2 linked regions of the Homo sapiens genome follow. The protein of the gene in region 1 purifies or fractionates together with the protein of each later gene. This does not show direct contact. Each region holds a gene or a part of one and is shown in the gene's direction. Other genes may lie near its edges.

Region 1 (3,748 bases):
AACCAAACGGGAGCTTGAACTGCTGAAGCACAACCCGAAAAGGAGAAAGATCACCTCGAACTGCACCATAGGTGGGTGGAGCGTGTCGTCACTCTCAGCTAGGCTTCTTTCCAGGGTTTAAAAGTAAATACAGAATTGTGGGTTTCTTAAGTCCACATGATTCTGTTGAAGCCCTGCATAACTGTCACTCATCAATGTGCTCAGCAACCAGCTCTTGAGCACCTGTTCTCTGCAGGGACCTGCAGTGGGCTTGGGGCGCAGAGTGATGCGTAGCAACAGCCCTGCCCTCACAGCCTTCAGCGTCTGTGTGGGTAAAGGGACTCAAGTTGATTTTGGCCAGGGTGAGGCTGGGCACAGTAATCTTCAGGGAGAGAAATGATGTGTGTGAGTGTAAGTGTTCGCTGAATTTTCTACAAATTGAGGGAATACCCTTTAAAACTTTTTCTTTTTCTTTTTTGAGACAGAGTCTTGCTCTGTTGCCCAGGCTGGAGCACAGTTCACTGCACCCTCTGTCTCCTGGGCCCAAGCGATCCTTCCACCTCAGCCTCCCAAGTAGCTGGGATTGCAGGTGCACACCACCATGTTTGGATAATTTTTGTGTTTTGCGTAGAGACATCTCACCATGTTGCCCAGGCTGGTCTCGAACTCCTGGGCTCCAGTGATCCTCATGCCTTGGCTTCCCAGAGTGCTGGGTTACAAGTATGAGCCCCTGCCCTGGCCCTAGAACATTTTTAAAAACCTGTTTTGTTTGTTCATTAGGCTTCACTCTGACCTGGCCTGTTGTCGTAGAAACTATATTTGTGTAATTCTGTCAAAGCATACAATGGCTGAAGTGGGAGGGGTCCATGGTGGTGGACATTCTTCAATACCGTTCATGTAAAAGTGGCATAAAAACTAGCAGAATGCGATATCTCATCGTGTTCTGGCTTGAATGAATGAATAAAAGAAAATGAGTATGTAGAGGTAGAGGAAGCCGCTGGGATCCAGCGACACCTGTGGTTCAGCACACAGGTAACTCCTGCTCTCTGGTGATTTGTGTCCAGGTCTGCGTGGGCTGATCAACCTTGGGAACACATGCTTCATGAACTGCATCGTGCAGGCCCTGACCCACACGCCACTTCTGCGGGACTTCTTCCTGTCTGACAGGCACCGCTGTGAGATGCAGAGCCCCAGCTCCTGTCTGGTCTGTGAGATGTCCTCACTGTTTCAGGAGGTGAGCGCCATTGACTTCTGCAGGGGAACATTTCTGTTACTTTGTTTTCACCTTCAAAAAAAAAATTTAAGGTGGACCATGATAAAGGAAGATACATTTAGAACCTTTTGTAGTAAGTTAATGTTTAATATACATGTCTATTATGGAAAACACAGTTTTCCAAAAAGGGAAGACCTGGCGTGATTTTTGGGGACGCACTGCTGACTCAGAACAAGGAGAAGCCCTTTGAGAGGCTTGTGGCAGAGACTTCCCTGGTGGGTGACATTTGTCTCTAAAGACGGGTGATTCTCCCCCTTCCTCTTCCTCCATGGTCTACCTTCCTGGCTCAGAAAGGCACGCATGTGTCACCCTCCTGTGTCCTCCTGGTATGCGAGTCTCCTCCACCGCCAGGTCTCTCTAAGCATGCCCCATCAGAGCCTCTGTCCTCATGAGCTACGCGCTGCACGTTGGCTGTTCCTGTGGGCTGCACGTGTGGCGTTCCTGTCCACTTCTGTCCCCGGCATCAGAGCATGGCAGCGTTCAGAGCAAGGCGTTCACGGCTGCCGCCTCAGCCCTCACCGGCTCCGTGACCTAGACATGCTTCTCAGAGCTGAAGCAGCTCAGTTACCTCAACTAATAAGCAGGCTGGTGCCTGTTCTTCAGGTGCCTTGCACAGGAGCCAGCCAACAGCCCTGGCCTGTTCCCATTCGTAACCTCTGCGAGAGATGCAGCCACGCCAGCTCACTCATGTCTGTCTGGTCACTGGTCGCTTTTGTGGGACAGCCACAGAGTTGAGCAGTTGGACAGAGGCTATCCAACCTGCAAAGCTGAAATTATTTACTGTCCAAGCCTTTCAAAAACAGATTGCCAGCCTCTGGTCGAGCCTAACCGATTTCCTCAAAGTACCTGCAATGTGCCATAACTGCTGGGGACACGGCCCAAATAGGAGAAAGGAGGGTGCAGCTGGGAAGTTGGTGGGTGGTTGTATCACTGACTTTAGTGATAAGCTCACTTGTGTTAGATTGTTTTTAGACTCCGGCTTGTTAAGGTGTAAATTACAGTCACACCCACCTTCTAGCCTATAGATAGATGAGTTTCGACGAATGCATAGTTGTGTAACTGCTGCTACTCAAGATGAAGAACTGTTACCTCTCCGAACTCCCTCGTGCCCCTCCGAAGTCAACCCCCAGTCCCCAGACCCTGGTAGCTGCCGATCTGTCTTCGGTCCCTTGAGTGTCCTTTACCAGCGCATCATACGGATGGATGCATGCAGGAAGTAGCCTTTCTGAATCTGGCTGTCCCTACTTAATGTAATACTGGGTGGATTCACCCGTGTCTTGCGTGCATCCATGATGTGTGCTTTCGATGTCTGAGTTGGGTTCCATTATGTAGATGGGTTATGGTTTAGTTGTCTGTTTCCCAGTTCAGACACATTTGGGTGGTCTGTGGTTTTGGGTTTTTTGATGAGAAATAAAACTGCCCTGAATTCTGTATTTGCACAGGCAAGACCCCTCTGTGGGTTCTGACCTGGGGAGGAAGCCGTGGGATGGAAGGTGTGCTGCTGGGTCTGCGGCTGGAGTTGAGCTGTTGGAGAGGACTGGCTGGCAAGCCCTCAGCTAATTGCCATTAGCCTCAGAGGCAGAGAATCCTGTGGCTGATGCTGGTGAATTCTGCATAATCACAGTGATGTGCTTCCCTTTGCGGAGGTGCTGGTGTCCATGGGCCTGAGTGGTTTGGCTAGTGCTTTGAGGAAACTAGTATTGGGCAAATCGAGTCACTTTTATTTGCATGTGATCTCATAGTAGCAAGTCATAATTCATTTTTTAGGCTTATATGTGGAAAACTAGATGGTAGAAAGGAAAAAATTCATATGAGGACTCGAAAAGTCCAGTGAGCCCAGATAAAAATAGACTTTGCAAAAAGTAGAAAAGTAAAATCCAAACATTTGTGTCAAATGAGCCACAGCCAATGGTAGGCATCTGATAAAGGTTTTGATTGTGTGTACTCTGTGTTCAGAGTCTACATTTATTCCTGACAAGGTTTCCTTCCCCGCCCTCTGGCAGTTTTACTCTGGACACCGGTCCCCTCACATCCCGTATAAGTTGCTGCACCTGGTGTGGACCCACGCGAGGCACCTAGCAGGCTACGAGCAGCAGGACGCCCACGAGTTCCTCATCGCGGCCCTGGACGTGCTCCACCGACACTGCAAAGGTGGGCCCTGGGCTCTGCACCCTCCACCAGGGCAGGATGTTTTCCTTGAAGGGGAAGGAAGCAAAGCGAGTGTATGCACTCGTGCAAAAAGGGGCACAGGTGACACATTCCATTGTTTTGTCATCATAGCCCTTGTCGTCATTTGTTTCTGAAGTCACCATAACTAATGACCTCAGAGAGGCTCCTCCTAGTTTATTTTTAAGAGGCGAGGAAGTAGTTCCAGCAGTATGACAGGTCCTCAGTGACCGATCACAGTGAACAGCAAACTCTTGGAGCCCTCTTGGGCCTGTGCTTTGAGGCCCCTGCCTGCCCTGGCATTTCTGGGACCCTGTGGGTTATCAGGCC
Region 2 (3,748 bases), on another chromosome or scaffold:
GTCCTGAACTCCTGACTTCAAGTGATCCTCCCATTTCGGCCTCCCAAAATGCTGGGATTACGGTCATGAGCCACTGCACCCAGTTTGCAGATTCTCATTGCTAGTGACTGGGTTGAGAGTGTGGGATGTGAGTGTGGGGTATTAGGTTCCTCTTTCCCTTTGACCCAGAACAAAGCTCTTACTGTTTTAAGCCCTGTGGGATTAATCTTAGAGTGGCTTAAGTGTAGGATATTTGGATTTGTTTATTTGAGGCCTTTTATGCTATTATAGTAAAAGGGCCAGCAATTTTAGGCTGGGTATTAGTGGTTAACATATGCTTCTACCCTGCAGCCTTTGTCCCTCAGAATTGGCTATCTCTTCAGACCGTGCTTAATGAAAGTTCTTATTAGTCAAGCTACTCAGTTGCAGATAACAAAAAGCTACTCTGACTAGCCTAAGCTGAAAGGGGTGTTTGTTGACTCTGTGATATTGTAAAATATATATCTGGTTTGTATCCCAGTTTGGAGCTTCCTGGAGGGTGGCGTGCCCAGGGTGGGTATGGAAGCTCTTCGCTCCTTCCCACATGCTTTGCCCTGTGCACCTCTTCCTTCATCTGTATCCATTGTGACATCCTTTATAATAAGCCAGTAAACCTAAGTGTTTCCCTGAGTGCTGAGAGCTGCTCCTGCAAATTAATGGAACCCAAGGAGGGAGTCATGGAAACCCTGATTTATAGTCAGTTGGTCAGAAGCACAAATAAAGCAACTGGGGGCTTGTGACTGGCATTGAGAATTGGGGGGACATGCTCGTGGGACTGAGCCCTCAACCTGTGGGGTTTGACACTCTGTCTGGGTGGATAGTGTTGGAAATAAACTGAATTAGAGGACATCCAGCGTGTATCCACTGCAGACTCAATGGATTGATTGGTGTTGGGGAGAAATCTCCACACATTTGGCCACGGAAATCTTATGTGTTGATTATCCTATATTGTGACAGCAGAGGAGAAAGTTTTGTTTTTTCCTCACAGACTGTAGCTGAAGAGTCCTGGAGTAAATCAGTTTCAGATGGGACTCTATCCAGAAGCCTAAATTATGTCACCAGTATTTTCTGTTTTTCTTTCTCTGTTTTTTTTTTTTTTTTTTTTTTTTTTCAGAGACGGGGTCTTGCTGTGTTTCCCAGGCTGGTCTTGAACTCCAGGCCTCAAGAGATCCTCCTGCCTCAGCCTCCTGAAAGCTGGGACTACAGGAGTCCACCACCACACCTGGGTACTTTTTTTTTTTTTTGAAACGGAGTCTCGCTGTGTCGCCAGGCTGGAGTGCAGTGGTGCAGTCTCGACTCACTGCGACCTCCACCTCCCGGGTTCAAGTGATTCTCCTGCCTCAGCCTCCCAAGTAGCTGGGACTACAGGCATGCACCACCATGCCCAGCTAATTTTTTTTTTTTTTTGTATTTTTAGTAGAGATGGGGTTTCACCATGTTGGCCAGGCTGGTCTTGACCTCTTGACCTCATGATCCACCCGCCTTGGCCTTCCAAAGTGCTGGGATTACAGGTGTGAGCCACCACGCCTGGCTGCACACCTGGGTACTTTTTATTTTTGGTAGAGATAGAGCCTCGCTATGTTGACAAGTCTGGTCTCAAACTCCTGGGCTCAAGCAATCCTCTGTACTTGGCCTCCCAAGGTGTTGGGATTACAGGCATGAGCCACTGCGACCCGCCTGTTTATTGGTTTTGTTAAATGCCTTGTCATGAGGCATTAAAAAGCCCATGATGGAAAGAAGATAGCCCCAGAGAAGGGATTCCAAATTCTTCACAAATTCTTCAACAGATGAGTGGATTAAAAACGACATCTATCCATAGAATGGAATGTTATTTAACCATAAAAAGGAATGAAGTTACTGATACATGCTGTGACATTGATGACCTTTGGAAACATGCTAAGTGAAAGAAGCAAGTCACATAAGGTCACAGTACAATTCTATTTATATGAAATGTCTAGAATAGGCAAATCTACAAATATGAATTAGAATAATGGCTGCCAGTGACTGAGAGGAGAAGGGGGTGGGGAATGACTGCTAATGAGTATAAGGTTTTAAGGAGAGTTGGTGAAAATGTTCTAAAATTAGATAGTGGTGATATTTGCACAACCTTGTGACTAACATAACACTGAATTGCACACTTTAAAAAAGTGAATTGGGGTGGGTGCGGTGGCTCACATTTTTAATCCCAGCACATTTTGGGAGGCTGAAGCAGGAAGATTGCTTGAGCCCAGTAGTTTGAGACCAGCCTGAGCAATATGATGAGACCTCATCTCAACAGAAAATTATAAAATTAGCTGGGCGTGGTGGTGCACACCTGTAGTCCCAGCCACTTGGGAGGCTGGGGCAGGAGGATTGACTGAGCCAAAGAAGTCAAGGCTGCAGTGAGCTGTAATTACACCACTTCACTCCAGCCTGGGCAATGAGAGTGAGACCCTGTCTCAAATAAGTAGATAGAGAGATAGAGAATTGTATGGCATGCGAATTATCTTCATTAAGCTGTTTTTGTTGTTGTTGTTGTTTTGAGACGGAATCTCACTCTGTCACCCAGACTGGAGTGCAGTGGTGCGATTTTGGCTCACTTTAACCTCCGCCTCCCGGATTCAAGCGATTCTTGTGCCTCAGCTTCTCAAGTAGCTGGGATTACAGGTGTGTGCCACCACACCCAGCTAATCTTTGTACTTTTTTAGTAGAGACAGTGTTGGCCAGGCTGGTCTCGAATTCCTGGCCTCAAGTGATCTGCCCACCTTGGCCTCCAAAAGTGCTGGGATTACAGGTGTGAGCCACCGCACCCGGCCCATTAAGCTGTTATTTTAAAAAGTCTGCCTAAACCTCTGAACTAGACAAACATGGGGCATATTCCAAGCAACTTAGCCAAGTTTAAAAGATCAGTACAGATTTCAGCTGATGCTTGCCTCAGGGAAGCTAGATTTGGAGTTTGAGTTCAGCTGTGATTAACTGCATGTTAACAGAAACAAAACACCAAACTCTCAAGAACATAACAGAATCCAGAGTCTACAACACATCATCTACAATGTCCAGGATATAATCCAAAATTCTTAGACACAAGAAATGGCCTGGGCATGGTGTCTTATGCCTGTAAACCCAGCACAGCACTTTGGGAGGCTGAGGCAGGCAGATCACTTGAGGACAGGAGTTTGAGACCAGCCTGGCCAACATAGCAGAACCCCTTCTCTACTAAAAGTACAAAAAAATTAGCTAGGCGTGGTGGTACACAGGAGGCTCAGGAGGCTAAGGCACAAGAATTGTTTGAACCCAGGAAGTGGAGGTTGAGCTGAGATCGTGCCACCACTCCAGCCTGGGCAACAGAGCAAGACTCTGACTCAAAAAAAAAAACCACGAAAATTTTAAAATATATTTTTACAAAACAGGAAAATATGATCTGTGTTCACAAAAAAAGGCAATGAATGGGCCCGGCACAGTGGCTCACGCCTGTAATCCCAGCACTTTGGGAGGCTGAGGTGGGTGGATCACGAGGTCAGGAGTTCGAGACCAGCCTGACCAACATGGTGAAACCCCATCTCTACTAAAAATACTAAAATTAGCTGGACGTGGTGGCGCACACCTGTAATCCCAGCTACTCAGGAAGCTGAGGCAGGAGAATTGCTTCAACCTGGGAGGAAGAGGTTGCAGTGAGCCGAGGTTACACCATTGCACTCCAGCCTGGGCAACAGAGCGAGACTCTGTCTCAAGAAAAAAAAAAAAAAGAACG

The links. Proteins that work in one complex are often made in the same cells at the same time.
Region 2: the proteins of USP22 (region 1) and SGF29 purify together in Homo sapiens (affinity purification with mass spectrometry; 6 studies listed by BioGRID and IntAct, with this or other methods). This does not show direct contact.

What each region holds. Positions count from the first base shown.
Region 1 is NC_000017.11:21,015,407-21,019,154, reverse strand, and holds part of USP22 (ubiquitin carboxyl-terminal hydrolase 22), read left to right. Parts: coding exon 1-71; intron 72-1,043; coding exon 1,044-1,213; intron 1,214-3,255; coding exon 3,256-3,403; intron 3,404-3,748. UniProt on the Homo sapiens protein: Deubiquitinase that plays a role in several cellular processes including transcriptional regulation, cell cycle progression or innate immunity.
Region 2 is NC_000016.10:28,556,863-28,560,610, forward strand, and holds part of SGF29 (SAGA-associated factor 29), read left to right. Parts: intron 1-3,748. UniProt on the Homo sapiens protein: Chromatin reader component of some histone acetyltransferase (HAT) SAGA-type complexes like the TFTC-HAT, ATAC or STAGA complexes.